4 separate regions of the Homo sapiens genome follow, and regions 1, 2 and 4 are each linked to region 3. The links come from fine-mapping of genetic effects on gene expression. A gene starts in region 3. Each other region holds a variant in brackets. All regions are shown on one strand. Distances are between the middles of the regions.

Region 1 (7,340 bases), 73 kb after region 3:
TTTTTCAAATTATACTTTAATGAATATTGGCAATATCTTGTTTACTTCTGCATGCTTTTGAACTCTGAACAAAGCCACATGGCATGAATAATTTTGTCACCTTTTTGCCTCTTTCACTCAGGAACAGGTCTATGAGACTCACGCTCACGGCTGCACGCAACAGGCGTCCACACAACCACATTCCCAAATCCGAGGTAAGTTTGCTGTTTGACAGAAAAATGCAATGTGAACTGATGCACGGCCGTTTGGTGTCCATCTTCACCCTGCGGTTGGAATATTCCTGTGCTTACCGCTGCACACGTTCACAACCCTACCGCTGAATTTGGTTGTTTTCAACCCACTCTGACAATGTCTGTCTTTTAACTGGAACACTTAGTCCGTTTTCATTGACTGAATTAAATGACGTACCGGCGATTCTATCTGCCATCGTATCTCCTTCTGTTCTTCTGCTGTAATATGTGAGGGCAGGCAAACTCATCTAACTCCAAAGATGACAAGCAACTCGATCTTTTTTTTTTTTTGAGTCAAGGTCTGGCTCTGTTGCCCAGGCTGGAGTGTGGTGGTGCAATCTCAGCTCACTGCAGTTTCCGCCTCACAGACACAAGTGATCCTCCTGCCTCAGCCTCCACGTAGCTGGCACTACAGGTACATGCCACCATGCCTGGCTAACTTTTTGTGATTTTTTTATAGAGATGGGGTTTTGCCATGTTGCCAGGCTGAGCTCAAGCAATCCTCCCACCTAGGCCTCCCAAAGTGCTGGGATTACAGGTGTGAGCCACCATGGCCCACCCCCCTCCTCTTCTCAGAGGAACTGAGAACACTTTAGTTCCACTCACAGGCACCATCTTGACATTTATGCCATTGCAGGTACATATATTGATTGTATCCTTGCTTTTCTGTGCATGAGTGACATCCAGTGACTGTCAGTTTCAGTTTACTCAGACACTTCCTACTTCCTCTCATGCTTTATCCATTTCAGACCTTTCATCACTTTCATGATGCTTTGAGATCATTTCTTCAGAACTGAGGTGAGAGTGTGCTGGGGGCAAATTCTCTTTTTTATCATTTAAAAACTTTACTTAGCCCTTTGTATAATCCATTTTTGCTGGGCCTGCTATTCCAGGCTGAGCATGGCTTCCCCTGAGCACAGGCATGCTACTGCTCTACTGTGACGAGCTCCCGTGGCTGCTTTGAAGGTTCTGTCTTCCCACTCAAATTGCTTCTGAGGTTTTTGTCGCTGGCATTCTACAATTTCACTATTATGCTTCTCAGTACATAATTTCTTAAAGCGTATAGACTAAATGACTGCCTGTGAGAGCTGTCCTCCAAGATGGCATCCAATGATCCTCACCTCCTGGTATCCATGCCCCTGTGTCGTCCCCTCTCACACTAAATAGGATGACCAGTGTATCCAAAACGGATACTGTAGAAAGAGAGGAGTGTGACTTCCAAGGTTAAGTCATGGAAGTCATTGCAGCTTTCAGCTCACTCTCTCCACTCACTCACTCTGGGGGAAGCCAGCCCCCATACTGAGGATACTGAAGCTGTCCTATGGGGAGATCCACGTGGTAAGGAGCTGAGCCTCCTGCCAGCCCCTATCATGGACTCGCCAGTCATGTGAGTGAGCTGCCGTGGAAGCAGTCTCCAGCCTTCCTCAAGCTTTGAGATGACTGAAGTGTTGACTGCTATCTCAACTATAAGCTCCTGAGAGATCTCAAACCAAAGCCACCAGCTAAGCAGCTCCCAAATTTCTGACCTACGGAAACTAAGATAAAAATACTTACTGTTTTAAGTTGCTAAGCTCTGGGGAAATTTGTCATGCAGCAATGGATAACCAATACATTGCCAAAGGCTGGGTATGGTGGCTCATGCCTGTGATCCCAGCTCTTAGGAAGGCCAGGAGTTAGAGACCAGCCTAGGTAACATAGTGAGACCCTGTCTGTAATTTTTTTTAAAAAGTAAACTAGTAATACATTTCCAGAATCACTATGTACATTTAAAATGAAATTTTCAAGATTCATGAAGTCTGTTTTTTTAAAAAACACTGAATTGTTTTTGGGAAGCTTGGCATGTTTAAAACGTTAAATCTGGCTGGGCGCAATGGCTCATGCCTATAATCCTAACACTTTGGGACCCCAAAGCTGGAGGATCACATGAGCCCAGTTCAAGACCACACCAGGCAACACAGTAAGACCCCATCTCTGCAAAAATTTTTTTAAAATTAGCTAGGCATGGTGGCATGCCACTGTGGTCCCAGCTACTTGGGAGGCTGAGGTGGGAGGATAGCTGGAGTCCAGGAGGTCCAGGCTGTAGTGAGCTGTGATTAGAGAAGCAGGAGTCTAGGAGAGCCAGGATAACATCATTTTATGTTCAACTCCACCTTGAGACTAATAGAGCACATTCCTTACAGGTCACAACCACGGACCTAAGATGTTTACAGCTAAGGAAGCAGCTTGGTAATGCCTACAAGGACAAACTCATAGAAAAGGAAGTTCAGATGTCCCAACACCCACAATAATATATGCTTTCAAGATAATTATAGTGATGCTTTAATGTACTTGCACACTAAAATGTAAAATAGTTTCCTTTTAATCAATAGAATAATAAATTGTTATGCTGTCAGCCCACCCACACGTAGGCACAGCTTGGTCTTTACATAGATAAGACCTCGATATAAGAAAAACTAAAAACAAAGTAGGTCTGTTCCTCTGCTTGCTTGTTGAGGATGCCCTGCTCTGCAGTGGAGCGGCTTTCAATAAATGATCTCTTCTCACTGCACTCTGCAGCTCGCCTCAAACTCCTTCCTGCATGAGATCCAAAAACCCTCTCTTGGGGTCCAGATGGAGATCCCTTTTCCAGTAACACTGTGATCATACCACTGTACTCCAGCCTGGTGACAGAGCAAGACCCTGTCTCAAAAACACACATATGAAATCTGCCCATCCAATATGATAACCATCTCCATCAGGAGCTCTACATGCTATTCAGTAACATTGTAAAGTGTTCTTCATGAAGGAATTGAACAACAGGTTTCTCTTTTTTTTTTTTTTTTTTTGAGACGGAGTCTCGCTCTGTCGCCCAGGCTGGAGTGCAGTAGCGCAATCTCGTCTCACTGCAAGCTCCGCCTCCCGGGTTCACGCCATTCTCCTGCCTCAGCCTCCCGAGTAGCTGGGACTACAGGCGCCCGCCACCACGCCCGGCTAATTTTTTTGTATTTTTTAGTAGAGACGGGGTTTCACCGTGTTAGCCAGGATGGTCTTGATCTCCAGACCTTGTGATCTGCCCGCCCCAGCCTCCCAAAGTGCTGGGATTACAGGCGTGAGCCACCACACCCGGCCAATAACAGGTTTATTTCTAAGAACTTCATAGTTCCTGTTGCTAAGTTGAATAGTATCCTTTGCTTCCATTCCATTTTCTGCTTTTTACTGTGTTGAAAAGTTGTGAATGGTGATCACATATCCAAACTCCCTCTTTTATCTGTACTCATGTTTCTTAAATTGGATTTTCCAAGTAGGTAACATATTAGATGCAAATAGTGATTGTCATCTTTTCAGATATTTACACATCTCATTTTCTTGATTTACTATAAGGGCTTCGGTTTCCAGAATACTGTTTATTTACTTTTTTGAGACAGTCTCCCTCTGTCGCCCAGGCTGGAGTGTGGTGGCGGAATCTCGGCTCACTGCATCCTCCAACTCCCAGGTTCAAGCAATTCTCCTGCCTCAGCCTCCCAAGTAGCTGGGATTATAGGCACCCACCACCATGCCCAGCTAGTTTTTGTATTTTTAATAGAGACGGGGTTTCATCCCATTTGCCAGGATGGTCTCCAACTCTCGACCTCAGGTGATCCGCCTGCCT[C/T]GGCCTCCTGAATTGTTGGGATTACAGGCATGAGCCACCGCACCTGGCGATTTTTCTGACGTCATAGTGGTACCATGCATCCATCTGCTTGCATCTGAAATACTTCCATTGGTGGCCACTGCAAGCTCTTGAGAGCTCCCCTCCGTCAGGCTATGGAGATGTCCATCTCTTCCCATCTTATCCAGAACCTACAGGTTTCTATACTTCGGTTTTTTTTAAATTATACTTTTAAGTTCTAGGGTACATGTGCACAACATGCAGGTTTGTTACATATGTATCCATGTGCCATGTTGGTGTGCTGCACCCATTAACTCGTCATTTAGCATTAGGTGTATCTCCTAATGCTATCCCTCCCCCCTCCCCCCACCCCACAAGAGTCCCCGGTGTGTGATGTTCCCCTTCCTGTGTCCAAGTGTTGTCATTGTTCAATTCCCACCTATGAGTGAGAACATGCAGCATCTGGTTTTTTGTCCTTGCGATAGTTTGCTGAGAATGATGGTTTCCAGCTTCATCCATGTCCCTACAAAGGACATGAACTCATCCTTTTTTATGGCTGCGACTTCTTTTGTTCTTAAGGAAAGATACTGGAATTTATTAGTATTACTTTTCAACATCTATTGAGATAATCATGTGATTTTCCACCTGTTGTTACTGAACTTTATTTACAGATTTCAAAATTCCTTTGTCCTTGGGTTACAATCTTCTTTTATTTACATACAACTTCATTTATTCCATATACATTCATTGAGCACCTACTATGTGCCAGACACTGTCCTAAGCACTGGGACAGAGCTGTGAAGAGACATGTGCCTGCTCTCCTGGCAGGCGGAAGTGTGCAGGACCCATCCTTACGGCTATGAAATTCTGCATTTCAGGTGCTCCTGGATTTGGTCTAGTACTTACTCAGGATTTTTCAATCTATGCCCACAGGTAGACTGGCACATCATTTTCTCTTTTTCCTTTTCTCCCTCTGTTCTCTTCTGGCACTGGTATTGGGTGATACCAGGTCCATATCAGAAGTGGCTCTGGGCAGGTGAAGCTTCATCAATGAGGATGACTAATTTCTTGTTTGGGAGTGCCCACCTATAAAGTCATCTGGGCACCCACATTTTTTAGGGAAGATTCCCTGTCCCCAAACTAAAAACCTGCCCGTCAGCAGAGATGCACCCATACCTCTTTCCACCCTTGGCCAACAACCTAATTCTCCCACTGCTCGCCTGCCCTTGGAGGCCTTCAGCCCACTCTTCTGCCTCCCAGCCTTGTCCTCAACCACCATTACCCATAGCCACCAGTCCATCTCTTGGAACTACAAATACAGCCTGGCTGCCCCTGCCCAAGAGCCACTGGGTCCCTGTGTCCTTGCTGGATATGGGTCCAATACACACTCCTCCTGCATCCACATCCCTACCCCTTCAGACATAGTGCCCTGTCCCCAGCCCTGTGCAGGACAGAAGCCTCACACCCCCTGGCCCTCCTCCTGAGCGGCCCTCACTAGACAGGTGACCTATGTGTATTTATAGTCCGGATTGCCTGTCATGAGATGTTCGCCTCCCAAAAGCCACTGCATCTGCTGGTTTGGTCACCCCACTCCCCAGCACCTGACACCATCATAGGGGTTTTGAAAGCATTTGGGCCTGAAGGACATGACTGAGAGGGTACAAAGGGGCCTCAGCGGGCAGCCCTGGGAACACACGCAGACACGCCTGTGTGCATGGCTCAATGAGCTCCCCACACTGAACTGGCCGCATGACCAGCGCCAGCTGCCAAAGCATTGCCAGTGCCCAGGAGCCCCTGCACCCATCTCGCCACAGCCTAGAGCCATCTCTCAGCCTGGCTTTGAACCTTCCAAAAGTGGAACCACACGAGTGGGGTTCTGGCTTCCTCTGCCCTCAGAGAACGTCCTAAGGCTGAACAGCTATATCCCACCATTCTCACTACTGGGCCTGACACAAGCCTGTAGCTCACTGTCCAGCAGTAGAGAGACCAGGAGATGCTTCCAGTTTGGGGAATCACAGCAGAGCCTCTCCCACTATTTTGTTTTGGTCAACTTTCAGTGACAAATCCTTCTCCTGACAGCTGCCCCACCTGGTTGGGAGGACACCACCCCCCCTGGGGACCTTGCTTTCCCTCCCGCTTCTTGCCACCTTCAGCCTGGGGTGGGAGGCACTGGGGAGAGCTAAGGGAAGTGTGTTGCCTTGCCTCCTTCCTGGCCTTGGAAGACCTCTCTACAGAGCCCAGCGGCCCACGGTTCTGGAAGCAAGAAGGGTGCAGGTCCACCTTGGTGCTCGTCCAGGGCCATGGGGAAGAGAGCCTCCTGAGTCCAGCCATCTGTTTCTCATCAGTCCCCACTCAGCCCTCCCCTGAGGCTGCTCATCACGACCAGCCTGGAGTTTTCAGAGACAGCGGCCTCAGGCGGGCTGGGGACAGGAGAGTAGCCTCGGCCAGGGTTTCCTTCCGCTTACCCAGTCCTGAGTCTGCAGTCCCTGCTGAACGCTGCTCTGGATACTGGGCTGGCCCCAGGCTGCTATCAGGCCCAGTGGGGGCCGCCTGTGCTCTTGGGAGAGGTGCGACTCCAGCTTCTTCCCCCGGGGGGACAGTTTCCTGCTGTCCATCTCTAGCCCTAGTAGGCTGCTTGTCCACACCTCTGAGATCTGGGGGTAGGAGCAGGGGGAGGTGGGGCGGGGCCCACAAGGCCACCCACGTGCCCACCAATACCTGAGTCCCTGGGGGCAGATGGTGGCAGTATCGCGGTCTGCTAGGGTCACCTTCCAGCCAAAGGTCAGGCATCACTGACCCCTCTGGGTGGAGTGGATCCCCCAGCTCCCGCCGCAGCTCTTCTCCACACCAGCCTCCCGAACTGTCCTCTCTGCCCCTGCCGACCCCACCCCGGGAGCCTGGAAAGCCTTCGGCAGCCTGCTGCACGGACTCCACGCCTCTGCCAGCCTTCTCAAACGTTCCAGGGGCATCAGCCCTCAGCCAGCACTGCGGGCACGCTCTCAGGGCCCGGCCTTGCTACGCCCGGGGCGAAGGAAAGGCCCAGAGCTCTTGCCACAGCCCCGCTTCCGACCCTGAGACCTCCCCTCCACGCGGCCCAGGCCTCGCCCCAGGCCCAGCCCGGAGCCCTTACGTGCCCGCCCTCTCCGGTGGGGAGGCGGGGTCTGCGCGGCCGGGGTCCGCGGAGGGACGGGGGAAGAAGGCTCAGGACACACGCTGGAGGCCGTGGGCACTCTGGGGTTCGGCGGGGGGGCGGGGTACACGGGAACGGCGGTCGGAGGTGGGGGGTACGTGGGCACCCGGAGACAGAAGGAGGGACAGACCCGCCGCGGATGGAGAGGCCACAGGGGGCCGCTGGAGTACACCGCGGCTTGAGGGGGCCCAAGGGGCCGGCGCCTCGCTCCAGAACGTCCGCTACGGCAAGCCCCGCCCCCACCGGTTCCGCTTCCGGTCTGCGCCGCGCCTGCGTTCTGGGCTCCGTTGCGGCG
Region 2 (5,383 bases), 27 kb after region 3:
GGCAGGTGTGCCCCGCAACTGTGACAGGCACTCCAGGGAACCAACACACTCCAGACGCTTTTGCCCCCACGTGGCCTCAGAAAACCCAACCCTCCCGTTCGCTGGATCTCACAGCAGCCTCAGTGCCACCGCTCTCCGTCAGGCGACACTGCTCCCCAGGGATGTATGGCATTGTCGGGACACATTTTTTGGTTGTCACGCCTTGGGGGATGCTATACGGCAGGTTAACACCGTATAATCACAGGTGACCCCCAGATAAGAATCACCTGGTAACACCGTATAATCACAGTGACCCCCAAGGTGGGCCTACCAGGACTCTGCCCACCGCCCAGGAGAGACCAGCCAAGACTCCTGCGAAGACTCAGGTGGCCCCTGCCCCCACCTGCCTCAGCCACACCCTCCCCAGGGGGACCTCCCCTCGCTGGCTGTCTGGGTGGCAGTGGCAAGAGGAAAGAGCTCCAAGCTCCTGGCCCACAACTCTGGACGCGTAGGGTGGGGGCGGCCACACACCAGGACACCTGGAAGTGACAGTCAGGACGCAATCCCCGCTTCCCCCCAGAACAGCCTGGGCCTAGAGGGAGGAGGGAAAATCGTCTCCGCCGCCCAGGCCAGCAGAGGTCATAGGTAGAGGAAACAGTGGCCCGGGACTGGCTGCGGCAGACCAGGCCGGGCTGGGCCTCACCTCCCGCTCCAGGTAGGACTTGAGCGACTCGGTCTCGTTGAGCAGGGTGACGCTGCACTTGCCCCTGGAAGAGAAGGACGGGCAGGCTGGAAAGGCGAGGGCAGCCCGAGGGGCCCAGGGCGGGAGCTGCTGGGGGCTACCTGATGTGCGTGGCGGGCAGAGACTCCAGCTGCCGGGAGAGGAACAGCTCCCGATGCCGCAGCTGGTGCTTTAGTTTCTCGGGCAGGTCCACCATTTCCGGGTTCTCCATTTCCTCTTCTATTTCCCCTGAAGGACAAGGAGCCCCTGTCAGCACCGCGGCAGACGCACACTGCCAGACCAAGGCCCACCCCACCAGCCCCACCTGGCGCCAGCACGCAGGAGGCCCAGTCCTGGGAGGCGTGCCTCCTCCTGCTGCCGGACACTGTCCCACTGCCCCACCCTATGGCGGCCCGGCGGCTCCTTGGCAGGTACCCCTGCAGACACTCTGGTGCCCACGTGCCCTTTAAGTCCAGGCACCCTAAAGGCCCAGACTCCCCAGGGCATGAAGATGGAAGGAGGAGGGAGAACAAGGTCCGGGCCAGCCCCAGAAGCAGCAGGCAAGAGCAAGAGGAGCGGGGGAGTCGGCGGCTGCCAAGAGCCCAGGCCAGGAGGGCGAGGGGCAGCCGCCCTCTGTCCGTCCCCATCTCGTGGCCAGACAGCCCCATACAGCCCACCACAGACCTCCCACACCAGCAGGTCACCCTCAGGCCGGGGCCGCACCAAGCCTGGGCCGTGGGCCGGACACAAGGGAGGGCCCCTCCTCAGCCGGGCCGGCCGGGCGCAGGGCACAGGCATGCAGGCGGCCCGCCCAAACTCTGTCCCTCAGCGGCGCTGCCGCCCCCAGCCCAGGGACACAGACAGGAGGACGCCCTCCTTGCGGAGGCCGGCTCTTACCTTCCTCGCCGTTGTCCGCCCCCGGTCCGGCCTTATAGCAGACTGACAGGGCTATATAACAGACAGACAGCACCCGGCAGCACGGTCAGCACAGGGTGGCGGCCTGCTCCCTGCCCAGGGCCCGGACCGAGGGCTGTGCCGCCAGGGGGCAGGGCAGAACGGGGGCCGCAGGCCTCCCGGTGGGGCGTGAAGACCACCCGGTTGAAGATCATCTGGGCCTCGACGTCCCCCCACTCTGGCTGCCCATCCACCCAGTGCCAAGCCTCTTTGGGAAGAGCCCAGACAAGCCTGGCTGTGGAGGGCCCCTGTCCAGAGGCCACCCCTGCCCCCACTCCACTGGGGCTTCCCAGAACAGGCTGTCCAGATGAGACCGGGGCCGGGCACCGGCCAGCAGCATGGGGATTCCTGCCCTGTGCTAGGAACCCAAGTAGGGTTCTTATAACACCCAAAATGGGGGCGTGCAGTGGTGCTCCCCACCGCCCCTCGCACGCTCAGCACCGGCCGCCAGTGGGCCACTCATCCCGCTCAGCGCCCTGCCGGCTCTCTGAGCCCAAGGTCCCCAGATGGGACCACAGCCAGCCGGGCTGCTCGCTCTCTGCGGCCCCCTTGTGGTGCCTGCAGGAAGTCCTGGCTCCTCTGGGCCCTCCCAGGCGCCAACAGCTAAGACTGAGGCTGGGAGCAGCCATGCTGGGCCTGTTCTGGGCCGGCCCTATCTGGGCCTCAAAAGCCTGGGGTGTCTGGCGGCTGAGCCTCACCTCCTCCCGGTCCATAGAACAGGGCAGGGCCGACCAGGACAGCCCCAGTCCTCTCATCCCAGGCCAACACATCTCACTCGCTCCCACTTCTGGGGACCCACGAGCAAACTGCACCCTGAACTCAGACATCACCAGGGCCCAGAGGCCCACACACCAGCCCCAGACCAGAGGCTGGCTTTTGTTCACGCCCGCCCTATGCCAGGCCCCATCCGAGCACTGACCCAGCCTGGACAGGAGCCCACAGCGGCTCCGAAACTCCCATTTCACCAGCGTCCCGGTCAGCAGAACAGGGCTCTGTGGTGCAGCCTGTCGGAGATGCGGGCGAGGTGGGCCTACAGCTCCTCAGAAGACCCTCAACAGGCAGAAACACCCAGGCAGGAGGTGGGGCTGGCTAGTGTACCCTGCACCCCTCAC[A/T]CTCTGAACCCTCCCTCAGACCCTGGATACACCCCTAAGCGTGAGGCCCAGGCTGTGCCCTCACTCCCACTCTTGGCTGTGGTCTCCAGGGCCCCCACGCCCTCCTCTGAGGAGGGACGTTCCCCTCTCCCTGTCATTCTGTCCTGAGAAAGGCTTCATGCTCACAGCCCTGCCGGGGGGAGGGCTTCTCTGCCACAGGGGCCACAGTGCAGCCTGGCGGGTGTCTACCCTCCACCCTGAGGCCTGCACTGTGGGCTGGACGCCCCAGCAGGGGCTGGGTGGAGGCAGTGACGTGGGAGAGCCAGAGGCCTCCCAGAGTGTCCTCACACCTGTCCCTGGGATCAGCTGGGGGCCTCACCCTGGCTGCCATGAGCTCACAGAGAAGCAGGAGAAACGGAGATTGACACAACCCCGGGGGGTGTGGGCCCTGCAGAATCACCGCAAGGCCCAGCCGCCAGGCAAGAGTGGGGCCGCGCTCTGAGTCCCTGGACCAGCGGCAGACCCATCACCCATGACGCCTGCTCCCTGCAGCTGGGCTCTCAGTTCATAGGAACGCCCTGCAGAGGGGCCGCCACGCAGCTTTCCAGGGAGCACCGTCCAAAGGGGCTGTGCTGTGTACCTGGGGGGGCCAGTGCTCGAGCTGGGACACTGCTCTCCACCCAGTCCTATCAGCCCCAACGAGGCCCTTCTGGAAAACCTGCCCTCTGATACCTCTAATCACGTTATGTCTGGAGTCCCCTTCTGGGGCTCTTCCAGCAAAAGGCCATCCTCTGGGGCGTCTGAGAGCAGAACCTCAGCCAAGGGGGCCACAGTACCCTCAAAAACCACTAAACCACTGATACAGGCTCTCTGGAGCAGGGACACTGTGCCCCCAGGTGCCAGAGGACAGAGACAGGATCCACCCTGGGCCAGCCATAAACATGCCCAACTCAACGGTGGCGCCTGACTCCCCAGGCCACACAGACTGGCAGGGCCACACTGCGGCCGCTCAGCCTGGGCACTGCTTCTCCAGCGGGCCAGCCCGCTCCCCACCACTGCTTCTCCAGCGAGCCAGGCCGCTCCCCACCACTGCTTCTCCAGCGGGCCAGCCCTGCAGAGTCGACATAGGCCAGCCTCCAACACTAAGAACCGCCAGCCGTGCTGCTGACTGGCACCCAGCACCTGCAGGGCCAAGGGCCACACCAAACACCCCTCCAGAATGTGTAGCCTGTGGACCTTCAACATCCCCAGCTCTCCTCCTTGGTGCCTGGAGCCCGCCGAGTGCAGCAGTGGAGTACACAGGCTTTGGGGTCAGAGGTCAAGGATCACCATGCCCCACCTTGAACGCTCCCCTCCTCTGAGCAGAGAGCTAGGAGGTCCAGTTCCTCACAAAGCCAGAGAAAGCCCATGGTCAACTGGCAGCTCCCTTTGGGCCAGCCACAGGCCCCACAGCCCAGTGTCCAGAGTGGACCCAGGCTCGGGGGCCCGGCCCAGCTGCACTGACCCAGGGCAGCTCACGTCCGCATCCACTGGTTGCTGAGGAAAGGTCCCAGCTGTCCGGTGGGCAAGGCAGTGGGGTTAAGGGACACCTTCCTTCCACAAGCGCCTGCCCTGGCCGACTCCCAGCAAAGGCTCAGGAACAAGGCATCGGTGGCAGGATGGTCTGTCCTGTCCCTAAGCCCCTCCCAGAGCAGGGGGAGGTTGCCTGGGCTGACTTCCTGCCCCTCACCCACAGCGCTGGGACGGGGCAGAAGATGCGAGGGTCCTCCCACCCGACCCACCGCAAACCCACAGTCCCTGGACCTCACCCCATTAGGGGTCGTGGGAGGTTACAGGTGGGACCTTGGCCCACCCCAGCGACACGGGTACCCGGGCAGTCACATGCCTCACCTACTGGGAAATGTCACCCTACAGACCACAGCCTCAGCCTGGGCTCAGATCCCACCCCAGGTGATGTGTCAGAGTGGAAGCCAAAAATGCCCCTCATGCCTGCCCCCACCGACACATGAAGGGCCTCAGTGGGGTACCACACTGTGTCTGGTGCAGGTGGGGCCCAGCTCGGCAGGCCCTGTGTCAGTAGCATGTGGAGGGCGTGGGGGTGCCTCTGGCTCCTGGCTCTGAAGTCAACATCCCCCGGCACAGGAGACTCCACCACCTGCGAGCACCTGTTCCCGGGGGAGAAGCTGGGTCCCCAAGGCTGAGGGCATTCCCATGCAGCCAGTGGCTTCCTCCCACACGCTGTGCTGGCCACAGCAGCCCCTCCCAGCCAGGTTACTAAACTTGGGTTTGAATCGTAAAGAATAAGGAGAGGACTGCTTTCCTGAAAACACTACTCAGAATCCCAACAGAAGCCTCTCCGCAAAATTAAAAAGAGAGAGACATTGGCAAGTGCAGGCAGCAGGGTCCCACCAGCCTGGAAAGTCTCCAGAAGTCATCATAGAAGGGAAAAAGAAGCCTCGATCAATGATGCCCACACCCAGCCACACCATGACAAGCTTGCAGAGGATGCCAGTGAGAGACAGACCACTCCGGGGGGCGTGCGAGGACTTCATTCACCCAGCCCCCGAGGAAACGGAGCCAGGACACCCCCGCCCACTGTGGAAGGGAGAAAAAGAGACGCCAGAGTGAGTTGGGCAGA
Region 3 (7,340 bases):
CCTCTGCTGGGCCCCTTCGGGGGGCCGCTCGCCTTCCGCTCCTCTGCTCGGGCCGCGGGGACCTCGATGGGGCCGGTGACCTGCGGCCCCTCCGCCAGGGGCTTCTCGTAGATGTAGGAGCCCGCGCCCCCGATGTTCACGCCTGCGGGTGGGGGTACGTGGGGCGGGGGTACGTGGGGTGGGGGCCGCGGCCACCGGGCATCTCAGAAAACGGCCCGCTGGGGACTGGGGGGCACTAGGCTTTCCAGGGTGGCAGGGACTCTGGGCGGGGATCCACGGCGGCCGGGACCCCCAGCCCTCCCCAGCGCCAGCGCCACGCCCCTCCCAGCAGGTCCCAGGGCAGGCCGAGGGCAGCCGGAGCTCACCTTTGGGTCCGAACAGGGTGGCGTAGCACGGCTTGTGGCAGAACGGCTTCCCGTCATGCTGCGCAGAGGGGCGCGGGTCAGGACCCTGCCTGAGGGTGGCGGGAGTCGCGACCCCCGCCCCCGCCCGCGCCGCGCAGTGGGGCTCACCTCGGCGTGGCCCCCGGGCGTCAGCGTCTTGCTGCAGCGCTCGCACTTGAGGCAGAACTTGTGCCAGTCCTTCCCCAGGGAGCTCACCTTCTCGGCTGAGCGGGAGGGGCGGCAGGGGGGTCAGGGCCGGGGCGCGCCCCGCACCCCCTCCGCCCCCACCTGGCAGCCACCACCCCCACGCGCTCCGGGGGTCCCCACTTTCAGGAGGTCTCCCAGGCGCCTTCCTTCCACCTGGCGGGCCCTGCCCCTCCTTCTGAGACCCGGAGGAGCCCGTCGCCCCCAGGCCCTGTTCTCCCTCTGGGTCTCAGCGCCCCCAGCCCTGGAACCCCGCTAGAGCCGCCTTTGAGAAGGGGCCCGGGGCTGCCCTGTTAGTCCCCTCAGTGCCTGCGGTGAAGGGGCCTGTGCTCGAGCCTGCCCGCGCTCCAACACCTGCCCGCGCTCCAACACCTGCCCGCGCTCCAACACCTGCCCGCGCTCCAACACCTGCCCGCGCTCCAACACCTGCCTCCCGGACACCCGCCTCACACCCGCCTCCCCCACACGCCCGCCTCCCCCCACAAATCTGCCTCCTCCCACACACCTTCCTCTCACACACACACCCGCCTCCCCCACACGCCCGCCTCCACACACCCGCTTCCCCCCACACACACCCGCTTCCTCAGACACACACCCGCTTCCCCCCACACACCTGCCTCCCCCCACACATATGCATCTCCCCCACCTGTCATTCCCTCAAACACTTCTCTTACACTCACACACCTGCCTCTGCAGTGCACCTGCTTCAACACATGCTGCTCTCCCTCTCACACCTGCCTCGCACTGACACGCCCCTGATCCCCACCAACTGGGCCCTGATGGGGCTGGCAGCACCCCGCTGCTGAGTCAAAGGTGCAGCCCCAGAACCTCCAGCTCCCTCATGGGAAGGCCAGGCCCCGTCCCCGTGGGTCCTCCAGGCGGGACCCTCATCTGTCTGTGGATTCCTCGTCCTAAACCCTGAGCTCTCCCCCCGCCGTAATGCCCCTGGCTGCCACTGGCATGGAAGATCTGAGGGCAGCTGCTGAGGGTCCGGGACCCTCTGCCACTGCCTCCCACCCCCACACTGGGGCTACTGGACTGCTTCCCAGTGGATGGAAGCAGGGGCCTCCCTAGGGAGCCAGGCAGGAAGAGGTGGGGAGGGGCAGGAAGGGCCCAGCAGAGCCGGAATTCTGAAGGGAAGGGGACAAGCTGCAGGCCCTGGGGGGAGGGAGCATGCAGGCTGGGCCCACCCTGCCCGGCAGAATCTGGCCAAGCCCCTCAGGTGGCCGAGGACCAGTGGCTCTCCCAGCTCCCTTTCTCAGCAAGTGGCCCAGCCCCCTTTGTCTGGCAGATATCGGGGAGGGGCATCTGGCTAGGGCGAAGCCCACTCTGAGAGGCCCAAGGGTGCTGCTCCTGGCAGTGAGATGGGATCCCCCAGGTGGCCTACTAGGTAGAGGGCTGTGAATACTGGCTCTCCGTGGCCCTGGTACAACCCTCTGGGCATGGCCAGGGCCAGCCTCCAGGACACCAGCCCAACCACAAGGCTGCACCAGCTTAGAGCCCTCTGACCAGAACCACTCCACTCAAGGAAGCTGGGACACACCAGGGCAGGCAGGGGCTGGCTGCACGGTGGGCAGGCGTGTCCCAGCAGCAGCAAGGAAGTCTCGGTGGCTATCGGCCGTGGCAGCTGCAGCCCAGGGCTGCCAGCACTGTGCTCTGGCCAGCTCTGGGACGTGGGCCAAGTGGGGGCAGGGAACTGGCCCTCAGACCCACTGGGTGGGTCAATGGCCACACATTACGGGTCCGAGTTGGGAACACAGAATCGATTGGGTCTAATGGCTCAGAAGAAAACCAGCTGCCCACCCTGGCTGCATGGGCTCTGGGGTGGCCTCCTCAATGTGCTCCGACATCCCAGCCTGGGTTCTACTCAGGTATGAGCTGCGGGGGCAGCCTGGTGTGAGGGTGGGCAGGATTCTGGACCCTCGCCCTCACAGTGCCTCCCAGGCAGGACAGAAGCCAGCCGGGTCTGAAGCGCCTTTGTTTTCCGCTGAGAGGCTGGGCGGGCCAGGCAGGCAGGCCTTTCCGGGCTGTCCACAGGACTGTTGGCCGAGACCCTGGAGAGCCCCAGGCTGGCCTGGCCCGGCCTGGGGTAAAGTCATGGGCAGTTGGACTGCAGAAGGGCCCTGGGGACCGTCTCCCACCCTAAGCCTTACAGAGACAGCCCTCGCTGGGACAGAGACTGAGGGCTGAGCGGGCTCCAGGAGAGGCAGCCGGAAGCCCCTCGGCTCCCAGCCACGCCAGAAGCACTCCAGGCCAAATCCGGTCCCTCCCCTCTGGGACGGGCAAAATACAACCTCCCCTCAACCCCCTCCAGCCTGTGAGCCGGGGAAGCCCAGTGGCGGCCTTCCCTGCAGCCTGGCCGCATTCTGGGTATGGGGCGACCAGGGCAGGCGCCCTGTTGGTCCCGGCCCTCCTCTCTGCTTCACTAAGTCTGCCCCCCTTCGTGCAGCAGCTGGTGGGTAGGTGGGCAGGGACCTTACCACCCTGGAGAAAGCTGGGCAGCGAATCAGCCAGGAGGAAGGGGGTAGGAAGGGCGCACCCAGGCCCAGAGAGTGAGTAAGCCCAGACGGGGGGAGCGCGCCTGCCGGAGGGGCTAGACCGAGGGCCGCCTTGCGAGACATCCCTCTTCCCGCCACCACCTGCATCCTGTCCAGGGCTGTTCTGACCTTGAGGAGGCAGGGATCCTGGACACCTGGGCTGCTTGAGCACAAGGTCCCTCTCACGTTCGCGGGAACTCGCGTGTCACACCCGCCCCCACCCTACCCCCGTGTGAAACTCCTGGGGGAACTGGCGCCAAGGGAATGCGTCGGGACAAGCAGGAGGCAGAGGCCAAGGTCGCCCCCGCTTGGACTGAATCCCGACAGAGTCCAAACCTGGCCCAGCCCAGCTCAGCGGAGCCCGGAGTGGGAGCTGGGGGTCACTGTTCCCGGCCACTTGTTCCCGGGGGAAGCGGGTGTAGGGGGTCCAGGAGAAAGGGCCCAGGCCCACGGGAGCGCGCGGGACGCACCCGGGGCGTACAGCCACGCCCTGCCCCGCCCCGCCCGGCGCCGTCCGAGGAACCGGGATGCGTCCGCGGATCCCCGAGCGCTCCCCCAAACACTGGCCTCATCCCGGGGCACCACAAGCCCCGCCCGGGTGGTCCCTGCCCCGCCCCCACAAGCCGCTTCGGGGTTCGGGCGTGACCGCCCCCGCTTTCGCGCAGCCCCACCCTTTGGCTTTAGCCGCTTGGGCAGCGCGGCCAGCCAGCCTCCGGGACGCGCATCCTCGGTCCGGGGCCGGGGCCGGGCGCACCCCGAGTTACGCCGCGGCTCTGCGGCGCGGGACTGGCCGCGAAGGGCGGCGGGATGCACCGAGCGGGCCGGGAGCGGGCACGCACTCACCGAAGTACACGGTCTTGTCGCACTTGGGGCATTTGGAGGCCATGGTCGGTGCGCCCGGTCGGCCCGCGCCCTCCGCCCGTTCTCCTCCGGGCCGCCGCCGCCCGCGCCCAGCCCCGCCTGCCCGGCTGTCCGCGCGCCCATTGGCTCCGCGGCCGGGGCGGGGCCTCGATAACCCGTCCCCCGGGCTGGGGGCCGCCTGGGGGCGCCGCGGGGGCGGGGCGCACCTGCCGGGGGTGGCGGGTGCGGGGCAGCCGGGCCAGGCCTGGCGCCCCCGGGCCCCTCGCGCCGGAGGTGGCGTCTACAGGGGCCCGCCCGGGCGACCGCGGCGCCGCCCGCGCCCCGGCTGTTTCCATGGCGACGTCGGGGCCGCCTGGCCGGGCCGTCCCCGGGGCGGCGGGCAGGGTGCGGGGAGCCTGGCCCTCGGCTCTCGGGGAGCCCTAGTGACTTGGGCCTAGGGGTCCAACACTCCCGGCCCTGGGCGCCCAGGCTGCGCTCCGCCGCGGGAAGGGGTCGCAGGCTCCGGGAGAACCCCACCCCCACCCCGCCGCGCGCGGCGCCTGTCCCGCTTCCCTTTGTTGCTCGGTTTCCATAGCAACAGCCGCGCCGCGGGAGCGGAGTCAGATTCCCGGCGGGCACGGCCCCCAGCCCTGTCCGGGTCTCCATGTCCCGCTCCGCCCCCGCCCGCGCCCCGCCCCAACACTGTCTGTGGTGCTGAAGGCTCCTTGGGTGGAGGGCAGGGCTCAGGAAGGAAGGCGCCGCCACCTCCAGAAACAGCTCGAGAAGCTGCTGGTAGGGGGTGTGGGGAGGTCTGCGTCTGCCTCCCAGGCAGGGAAGGGGCGGCGGGCACCAGCGCCGAGGGATCCGCGCTTAAGGCGTCCACCCCAAGCACTTCCACCCAGGGGGCGGCCGGGGAGGCGGTGAGGAGTTAGGAAGGGAAGGAGGGGAAGGAGTGGGCGTGCCCTCTGTGCCCCGGGCTGGGGCTGACACTCCAGTCCCTTCTCCCGCACCGCCCAGGACCAGCTGCGTGCCTGGGGGCCCAGGGCCTGACCTCGAGGGGTCAGGCGGGAGATTGAGGGGTCATGCCAGTCACCGCACCCCCACACCCCCACTCTGGCCTCCTCCCAACCAGGGCGTGCCTGACCACGCCTCACCACAGTGCCTCCGCCCTAGAGCCCCGTAGAGCCTGGCCCCAGGTGGGGAACCTCCGCACCCACGGGCTTCCTGGTGCTCTGTCCCCATGGGCCCTTCTCTGAGCCTTCTGGCCCCAGCTGAGCGTCGGCCTGGGAGACAGGCAGATCCCAGAAGCCCAGTGATCAGGCCCTATGGGGGCAGCTGACTCTGGACACCCTTCCCCCTGTGTCTTGGAGGCTGTGGGCTGGACACGGAGACCTACCTGTTCCCTCTGCCTGGTGCACCAGGCATGTTTGTGAGCCAACCAGAGGCCCTCGGTGCTCCTGGCTTTCATGGTGGTCCTGGCTGGGCTCTCTGTGGCAGCACCCTCCTCCCTTGCACACACACCCTGCAGCCACTGCCATTTCCATGGTGACAGCAGGCCAGAAACATGCCCCCCGCCCCCCCGCCCGACTGACCAGCCTGACCAGCTCCCCCTCTGCACTTGGGACCTGTGCCAGCCAAGGCAGAAGATGGTGAGGAGGCATCAGTCAGTACCTTTTCTGGGCAGCCCTTCCTCCCTGGCAGGCCCAGGGGTCCCTAGGGGTCCCTCACAGCAGGGCCTTGCCCAGGCTGGATTCATGGGCCCACTGCCAAACCCTCTCCAGCTCCCTGCCCTGTTCTGCCCAGCTTGGGAGCCTGGGGCTAAGCCATTACCCTCCCTGACTTTGCTACCTGTGGGGCTTGCTACCTGTGGGGCTTGCTCTGGAGGACAGGGCTGGCTGAACACAGGGCTCTTCTGGAGGGAGACCACCTGCCCCAAGGTCCCCAGCCCTGCCAGAAGAGTGGATGGGGGTAGAGGCAGGCCCCTCCCAGGGTGGCAGCAAAGGAATGGCATTCGGCACTGGCCAGGTGCCCTGGAGACACACGGAGGGTGGGGTGGGACAAGGAGTGTGCCAGCTGCTGCACTGCCCTCACCCCAGCCGCAGTCCCTGGGCAGCGGCCAGAAGCTCCCTAATGCGACGGGGCTATTCTGGGCCTGGCAGGCAGGGGTCAGGATCAATGGGTGCAGAGCAGTGGCCTTGGTCTCCACCTCTGAGGCTGCGGTGGGTCACAGGCAGGGGCAGTGACACAGTGGGACGGGCCCGAGTGGAGAGGGGGGCACAGGACACGGCGGGTGTGAAGGGAGCTGGCAGGGCTGATGGCTGGGCATGGGGCTGGGTCACACCCCTGGGCTGCAGTGGTCTGGTCCCTTCCGCCATCCTGTGACACTGGCAGATAGCAGGCCCCTGCTACTCAGCTCCACTGCAGGGAAGCCAGGCTGGGCTGAGTGGTGGACAGAGGACCCTAGCAGGGTGGAGCGGAGCTGGCAGGACAGGTCTCCAGGCATGACAGCATGATGGCCTTGCCACCCTGAGATGCCCCTGGCCCTGGGGAGCCGCGGCCCCTGTGGGGTTGCTGGTGCAGAAAGCAGGCTGCTGTCTCATCAGCAGGGAAGGGCCTAACGAGGACATAGCAAAGCTGGGAGACCCCTTCATGGCCTGGGCACCAAGGCCAATGCTCCCCCCAGCCGGTACCCACTCACTTCTAAGCCCAGGTTTAGACCCACAAGCAGCCCAGGCCCCACCCAGCACCGGTGGCCAGAGCTTGGCCCTGTGAGGGCACTGCAGCCTGGGTGTCTGGCCGGGGAGGGTGTCTGGGGTGGGAAAGGGCCCCACATCTCCTCAGGGCCTCCCTGCCCTTGGGATAGAGCCCAGGACCTAGGACACCTCACAGCCCACATGTTGACTCCAGAAAAGGACAGGCCCTGGGGGGTGGAAGAGCTGCTGAGGCCAGAACCCTGCAGCCAGCACTGGGAGGCAAGCCCGAGGCCTGGGGAAGGGAGACAAGGGAGCTGGGGTCTTCACTGAGCTCCAGACCCCCAGGGTTGGAAAAGGCCTCAGAGGGAGCTGTGTCCTTCATGAGGTCAGGGGCCTGATTTCCCAGCCGTCTGATGACGCACTACAGGCAAGTCCTCAGGCTGTGGGGTCACTCGGATGCTGGCTGCAGATTAGAGTTGGCTGGTGGGGGCTGGGGTTGGGTGGGGGGGCGCCACAGCCCAGGGAGGGTGGGTGGGACGTGCACTGCAGCCGAGTCCCTGACACCTAGTCCTGTCACTGCTGGGCCCCAGCACAGGCTCCCACGGAGGCCAGGACGCCCCCTTATCTTTGTCTCCTGGGAGACAGCAGAAGTGGTTTCTATTTTAATTCCGTGGCTGAGATTT
Region 4 (7,340 bases), 34 kb after region 3:
ATCTTTGCTACTGCAAGAATTGTGCTGTAATTCTAATCACAGTGCAAGTGCCTAATGGAATACTATTTATAACTCTTTTTTTTTTTTTTTTTAAGATGGGGTCTCACTCTGTCGCCCAGGCTGGAGTGCAGTGTTGTGATCTTGGCTCACTGCAACCTCTGCCTCCTGGGTTCAAGTGATTCTCCTGCCTCAGCCTCCCAGGTAGCTGAGATTACAAGCGTGAGCCACCACGACCAGCTAATTTTTGTATTTTCAGTAGAGACAGGGTTTTGCCATGTTGGCCAGGCTGGTCTGGAACCCCTGACCTCAAGCAATCTGCCTGCCTCAGCCCCACAAAGTGCTGGGATTACAGGTGTAAACAGCACCCAGCCTCACCTAACTTTTTAATTTTTTGAGATAGGGTCTCACTCTGTTGCCCAGACTAGAATGCAGCAGTGTGATGTCAGGTCACTGCAGCCTCCATCTCCCAGGACCACAGTCCAATTACACCATGCCTGGCTTTTTTTTTGAGACAGAGTCTTGCTCTGTCGCCCAGGCTGGAGTGCAGTGGTGCAATCTCGGCTCACTGCAAGCTCCGCCTCCTGGGTTCACGCCATTCTCCTGCCTCAGCCTCCCGAGTAGCTGGGACTACAGGCGCCCACCACCACGCCCGGCTAATTTTTTTGTATTTTTTAGTAGAGACTGGGTTTCACCGTGTTAGCCAGGATGGCCTCGATCTCCTGACCTCGTGATCCGCCCGTCTTGGTCTCTCAAAGTGCTGGGGTTACAGGCGTGAGCCACCGCACCCGGCCTTTTTAGATGGAGTCTCACTCTGTCGCCCAGGCTGGAGGGCAGTGGTGCGATCTCAGCTCACTGCAACCTCCACCTCCCGGGTTCAAGCGATTCTCCTGCCTCAGCCTCCTGAGTAGCTGGAACTATAGGCACCCACCACCACACCGGCTCATTTTTGTATTTTTAGTAGAGACGGGGTTTTACCATGTTGGCCAGGATGGTCTCTATCTCCTGACCTCGTGACCCACCCGCCTCAGCCTCCCAAAGTGCTGGGATTACAGGCATGAGCCACCGCACCCAGCCAACCTGGCTAATTTTTAAATTTTTTGTAGAGACGGGGTTTCACCACATTGCTCAGGCTAATCTTGAACTCCTGGACTCCAGCAATCTGCCCGCCTTGGCCTCCCAGAGTGCTAGGATTACAGGAGTAAGCCAAGGCACCTGGCCACTTTTCTTAAAGATAATTTGGTTTAATGTTATAAATGGGTTGGGGGCAGTGGCTCACTCCCAGGAGTTCAAGACCAGCCTGGGCAACATGGTGAAACCTCATCTCTATAAAATGTGTTTTAAAAATTAACCAGATGCAGTGGTGTGCGCCTGTAGTCCCAGCTACTTGGGAGGCTGAGGTGAGAGGATCACTTGGGCCTGGGAGGTCAAGGCTGCAATGAGTTGAGATCGTGCCACTGCACTCTGGTCTGAGCAAAAGAGCAAGACCTTGTTTCAAAAAAGCAACAACAAAAAAGAAAGAATAAAGAGAAAAGTGCTCAGTTGCTCTGCACAGCCTGCCGGGAGCCGGGCGTTCTCGAGGGTGGAATTCCTCTGTTTGGGACGTGCATCTCCTCTCCCCTTCGCATCTGTATCTGCTCACTATGGTGGTGTGAACCCAGGGACCACCATGCTCTGCTTCAAGTCATGATCCAATGTGGCCTGACCCTCCTGCAGGTCGAGCTGTCCCTACCCTGGCCGCCGGGTTCTCGCTTTGTTGGCTCCTGTGTCCCTGACAGGCTCCACCGCAGTGGGGTTACATCCACATCTGATCACAGTGACACACACAGACCATCCAATGTCTCAGCGAGCCATGAACCCTGCAAGAACACATGACCGCAGCCACCCCACCCGGGCAGCTGGGACCGTGGGGCCAGGCTCTTCCGCATTCAGGTTCCCACCAGCTCAGCGCCTCAGGCCAGGCCTCCCATTGCCACACATGCACCCCACCCTCCAGGATCACTGTGTGCATTCCATGACGCTCAAGGTCTGTTCTGCTGTGTTCCTGCACACAGTGGACTCAGTCACACTCGGGGTCTGTTCTGTTGTGTTGTGTTCCTGCACACAGCGGACTCAGTCACACTCGGGGTCTGTTGTGTTCTGCTGTGTTCCTGCACACAGCGGACTCAGTCACACTCGGGGTCTGTTCTGTTGTGTTGTGTTCCTGCACACAGCGGACTCAGTCACACTCGGGGTCTGTTCTGAGACGCTCCTGCACACACAGGTAAAGGCGGTGAGGCCACACTAGGCCATTCTTTCTTCTCTTCCTTCGAACACCTTTGCTTCCTGAGATTAACAATCGTCTTTTTTCTCCACTTGCCTAGTTTTTCATGGAATCATCACAGATTCTTCCCTAAAGTGCTCGGCAGCAGAGCTCCCAAAGAGAAAGGGCTCATATCAGGGCGCCTGCGAGGCCCCTCCCAGAGCTGGGGTCCACCCTGCTTGCTGCCTGCACCAGGGGCCGCATCTTCCTGGGCGGGAGGAACCTGCGCCTCCCTCGTGTTGGAAAGGCGCGGAGGAGTGCACTCCAAGGCCTCAGTCAGGAAACCTCACTCATCTGCCTTCCGGGAGATGGAGCTTGGCTGGGCGTGGAGCCTCCACACCTGAACGCGGCTGCCGAAAGGCAAAGTGGGTTTTGACTCCGGTGCTTCGTGTGTGACCCACTTTTTCTCTAAACACATTTCTTCTCCCGTGTTCTAAAATTTTAAATACACCTTGAAGGGGCCCCTCTTTATTGCTTTGCTCGCTCCTTCTCTGCTATTAACTGGACGTTGGACCAATGGACTGATGTCTGATTTTTTTCTCTCCTAGTTTCTTTGTGTTTTTGCCCCATCTTCTGTGCGGTATCCTCAACTTTATCACCTGATCCTTTCATTTCATTTGCTACTTCTCCTAACCCAAGTGTCAAGAGCTTTCCTCTCATCTGACCACATCCCAGGATGGATCCCATCCATTTCTCAGAGAACATTCACGGGCTTTGTTTTGCTTTAGTTTCCTTCTGTTCCCTGCACTGGCCCTTCCTCTGAGTTCCTTTTTTACTTTTTTATTTTTTTGAGACAGAGTCTCGCTCTGTCGCCCAGGCTGGAGTGTAGTGGCGGGATCTCGGCTCACTGCAAGCTCCACCTCC[C/T]GGGTTCACGCCATTCTCCTGCCTCAGCCTCCCGAGTAGCTGGGATCACAGGCGCCCGCCACCACGCCCGGCTAATTTTTTGTATTTTTAGTAGAGACGGAGTTTCACCGTATTAGCCAGGATGGTCTCGATCTCCTGATCTTGTGATCCGCCCGCCTCGGCCTCTCAAAGTGCTGGGATTCCAGGCGTGAGCCCCTGCGTCCAGCCTCTGAGTTCAATTTTTACATGTGCTGGCTGACCTTCCTGTTAAAAGCCCCCCCGCCCCGCCCCATACGCCTTGCGGCTTTTCATCCCTGGGAGCCTCCCCGGTGCTGGGCAGCTCGCTGCATGGGCTGCACCCATGGGTGCTGGGGTAGCGGGCATTCTGCTGGGTCCCCGATGCCAGCAGCTGGGTCTGTGGGCTTTAGAAGTCTGGCCGCTAGGGTCCTGGGAGCCAAGGAGGCAAGAGGGGCGGGGGGGCCCACCAGGGGACAGGCCATGAGCCAGGCGATCCCCACTTCCAGCCCCCGCACGAACTGTGCTGGCCTGGGTCTGGTGCCCCAAATCTGGGTCCTCTGAGTCCACTGCTCCAGCCCAGGGAAGGGCTCTGTGGGACCACCTGACCCCCCAGACAGGCCTTCCGCGCTGCCAGCCACATGTCACCATGGTTCCTGTTCTCCCCATCCTGACCCAGGCCAGGGCCAGGGCCTCTCAGGTTGCCCAGTCTGCCTGGCTGCCTTCCAAGCTGTGCCCATACCTCCCAGTGGCACCGCCTCTCCCACCTTCCTTGCCCTGTGGGTGCAGAGCCCCAGCACCACTTTCTTGTTATTTGAGGGGGCGTTCAGTCCAGGGAACAGAGGGGAGGTCTGTACTCAACCAGCTGCGCCCACCTGGAAGCCCCGCCTGGAGCTCCTTGGCGTGGAGGGCACTGGCCGCACTCTGTCGCAGGCCTGCGGGTTCTTTTCCACATGGTGAGCGTCTGGCTCGGCTGCCCTGCCTGAACAGTCCAAGAGAGTAGTCGTGCCCCTCACAGGCTGGTGTCCCGCCCAGAGACAGGCAAGTGCCCACGCCATGTGGCCCTGGCCCTGAGGAGGAGGGAGTCCTAGGACGAAGGGGACGCCTCTGAGCGTGTGCAATGCTACATGTGTAACTGAACATCGCCCAAGGGCTGGAAGCCAGCCCCCTGCCTGCACACGCCTGCAATCTACTGTCTGCACATGGAAGCCGGAAGCAGCACGAGGGAACCTTCCTGACAGTGGCACCTCCCAGCAGTGGCACTCGGCCAGGCGCCCACGGAGGCACTGCAGCCTCCCGCCCCGGGTTGCCTGCCAGCTGGCTGTGTGGGGCCAGCAGTGCCATCTGCCGGCCGCCCCTCCACTACACAGACCAGGAGGGACACAGGACCTCCCCCAGCCATGGTTCAGCGTCAGCTGAGGAACCTCCCTCTGCACCTGTTTCCCTACAGTCCACATGCTGGGATGCGTAAAGTGCTGCCCCGCACTCAGGAGGCTCAGCCACAGGAGTGGCGCCCCATTCCGGCAGTACCCAAGTGGCCTTGCTCTGCAGGCGGGCAGGCCCTGCCCAGCAGGGGCAGTGAGGCAGACTCAGAAGACACCCAGGTCATTGCCTGTGCCTCCAACAAACAGGCCTGGCCCTCAGACCTCCCAGGAAGCTGCGGGGGAGCAGATGTCGCACCCCATGCTCCTCGGCCCCAGGTGGTGGCAGATACCGCAGGGAATGGCCCTCGACAAGCGCAGCCAGGGAAGCCCGGAGCCCAGCATGGCTACGTCAGAGGTGGCGCGCTAACCTTCCCCCCGCTGCCCCCTCTGATCCCAAGAACCCCACGTCACCGCTGCCACCAAGCCTGAGGTCCAGGAAGGCAGCTTCTCCCAGGTGAGCCTGCAGCATCCAGATGGAACACCAAGGGCCCGAGTGCCCCAGGCCTGCCGAGTGGGCAGGGCTCCTAGGAGAAGGCAGCCATCGGGCCACTGGCTCCAGGGGATCGGGGGCTCAGGAGCCCTGCAGGCAGGCACAGAGAGGTCTGTGAAGCACCCAGCACCCCACCCCACTCTCTGCTGGAACCATGTGTCCACTGGTGGGGACAACCTGCCCTCCCTCAACACCCTTAGAAAGTCTCCAACCAGGAGGAGGAGAAGGGACGCTGGGGGACCCACCCACCACCCCTGAGGACAGCGAGAAGGCTCCCAGGGTGTGCGGGCGCCCTACACCTCCATGGCCATCTACGGCTCTGTCTCCCGAGCTGATGGGACGGAGGCTGTGCCGAGGCAGTGGAGGCCAGGAGTGGCTGGGGCTGAGGGGCCCATGTGTCACCACCCCCCAGGAAGGATCTGGTGCTGCCAGGCTCAATGCATGGGCACAACCACGTCCCCCGACCAAACAGCAAGCAACTGCCAAGGACTCATGGCAGACACAAACCAGGTGGGAGCAAGGGCTGCCTGAGTGACCAGGGAGGGCGCTTCCAGCCACGCAGACACCTCAGGGTTGGGGGCAGAGCTCACAGCCCTGCAGGGCTGCCTGAGTGACCAGGGAGGGTGCTTCCAGCCATGCAGACACCTCAGGGGTGGGGGCAGAGCTCACAGCCCTGCAGGGCTGGCTGCCAGGGTTCGGGCAGGGCAGGGGCACCGAGTATGGCTTTCTGCAGCCTTTGGTTGGTTTCAGAATCACACCATTCCGCTCGGGCTCCCCAGGGGACACTGGCATCTTCAGGGGACCCAGCACCCACAGACCAAGTGTAGAGTGGGCAGGCAGCTCAGGGCAGCTGCGCTGGGTCCTGCATGAGGCCACCAGGCCCCTCACTCAGTATCTCCAAGGAGGAGCCACGGTGCAGGTGACAGTGGACGGAGTCACTGAAGGGCCTGTGCAGTGGCCAGTCCAAGATCAGCCCCGAAAGGGGGCCACCCACACTGGCCACCCACAGGGCAGGAGCTGGCGTAGCCCCCACCCACTACCCCCCTGCAGCAACACCAGGGCCCCCCAGTACCTTGTTGAGCTCCTCGATTCTCCGGATCAGGTATGGGTTGCTGGAGGAGTTCTCAAAGTAGACGTAGTCTGCAAACAGCAACAGAGAGAGTGCCACCTGTGGCACCAAAGGCCAGACCCAGTCCCACCTCCCGTGGCCCAGGGACTCGGGGCTCAGGCGGGGCAGTGTCATCCCCTCACCTCTGCTCCCTCAGGCGAGGAATAAACAGAGGAAGCGAAGCCCCCACACCATCAGGGAGGGGTGGCTGCAACCAAAATGGACTGACAGGCTGGGTCAGGGACAGGGAGATGCATCTGGAGGGGCCGTTCCCAGCAGGAGCAGACAGCCCCCATCCCGGATCCTCACAGACGCCAGCTGCCCCCAAGGGCTCAGGCCCTTCTTGGGGAAGCTGTGGGGGCCAGGCGGCAGCTTCCCAGGCAAAGCCCAGCTCCAGCACTGCCCAGACCCTGCCGGGAGCCCCAGGACACCTTCCCACTGGCAGCAGCCAGCCTGGATGCTACACCCCCAGAGCCACGTGGCCACCACCAGCCACCAGCCCTGCCCACAGCGGCCCCCATCTTTCCCTCCAAAACCAACAGCAGTGACTACACAGAGAACACAGTTGGGGCTTCCTGGGCCCAGGCAGGCTCAAAAACAGGACAGAGTTGCTCCAGGAATGACAGGAATACCAGAGCTCACCAGAGCTCAGGGACAGCAACAGGCAGCAGGCACTGGGAGTGCCCCAAGATCGGCCATCAGGTGAGTACAGCGCTTCCCTCAGCGATGAAACCATCTGGCCCTCCAGCCTTCTCACCAGCTCCACAGACAGAGAGCCACGGAACCTTCCGGAGCCCAGAGGCTTACCCTGGAAGGCCCAGGGAAGTCCAGGCTGGTGGTGCTGACACCCCGATGCTCCAGGCCTCCTGGGGCCACCGCAGGGGCTCAGCTTGGGAGGCACTGAGGCCATGTCCTCACGAACCAGCACCACGAGCACCCTCGCCAGCCCACCCTGCATCAGCTCCGCAGGGGGGACTGAGCAGGAGGCCTGTCTCAGCTGGAATCAGCCCAGAGGCCCGCACAGGCCTGGGATTCAGCAAAATACAGCAAGACCAGCACCAAAGAAGCCCAGCCCATCTGTCCACACGGAGGCCAAACCCGTGCCGCGAGGACCCTGTGGAGGGGCCTGGAGAGCATCTCCCTCCTGCTGCTGGCACACAC

Evidence for each region.
Region 1: its variant is fine-mapped to the expression of CRIP2 in whole blood (TOPMed, PIP above 0.99).
Region 2: its variant is fine-mapped to the expression of CRIP2 in sigmoid colon (GTEx, PIP 0.94).
Region 4: its variant is fine-mapped to the expression of CRIP2 in whole blood (TOPMed, PIP 0.94).

What each region holds. Positions count from the first base shown.
Region 1 is chr14:105,398,471-105,405,810 of GRCh38, reverse strand. TEX22 (testis expressed 22) reads right to left here and starts at 7,273. Exons shown (of 4, transcript NM_001195082.2): 1 at 7,176-7,273; 2 at 6,321-6,509. The coding sequence starts at 6,470. RefSeq lists enhancers at 6,162-6,672, 6,673-7,183 and a silencer at 6,851-7,340. The variant C/T (reference allele first, on the strand shown) is at 3,859.
Region 2 is chr14:105,445,624-105,451,006 of GRCh38, reverse strand. It overlaps MTA1 (metastasis associated 1), which reads right to left. Exons shown (of 21, transcript NM_004689.4): 4 at 1,598-1,648; 5 at 823-949; 6 at 683-746. Among named protein-coding and RNA genes, the nearest start is that of CRIP2, 27 kb to the left of the region's middle. RefSeq lists a silencer at 1,982-2,121. The variant A/T (reference allele first, on the strand shown) is at 2,767.
Region 3 is chr14:105,471,533-105,478,872 of GRCh38, reverse strand. CRIP2 (cysteine rich protein 2) reads right to left here and starts at 4,052. Exons shown (of 8, transcript NM_001312.4): 1 at 3,968-4,052; 2 at 513-607; 3 at 366-423; 4 at 2-142. The coding sequence starts at 4,010. RefSeq lists silencers at 4,030-4,139, 4,320-4,389, 4,660-4,809, 4,900-4,989, 5,000-5,049 and enhancers at 5,078-5,610, 7,166-7,340.
Region 4 is chr14:105,437,543-105,444,882 of GRCh38, reverse strand. It overlaps MTA1 (metastasis associated 1), which reads right to left. Exons shown (of 21, transcript NM_004689.4): 2 at 6,144-6,211. Among named protein-coding and RNA genes, the nearest start is that of MTA1, 21 kb to the right of the region's middle. RefSeq lists an enhancer at 6,884-7,340. The variant C/T (reference allele first, on the strand shown) is at 3,164.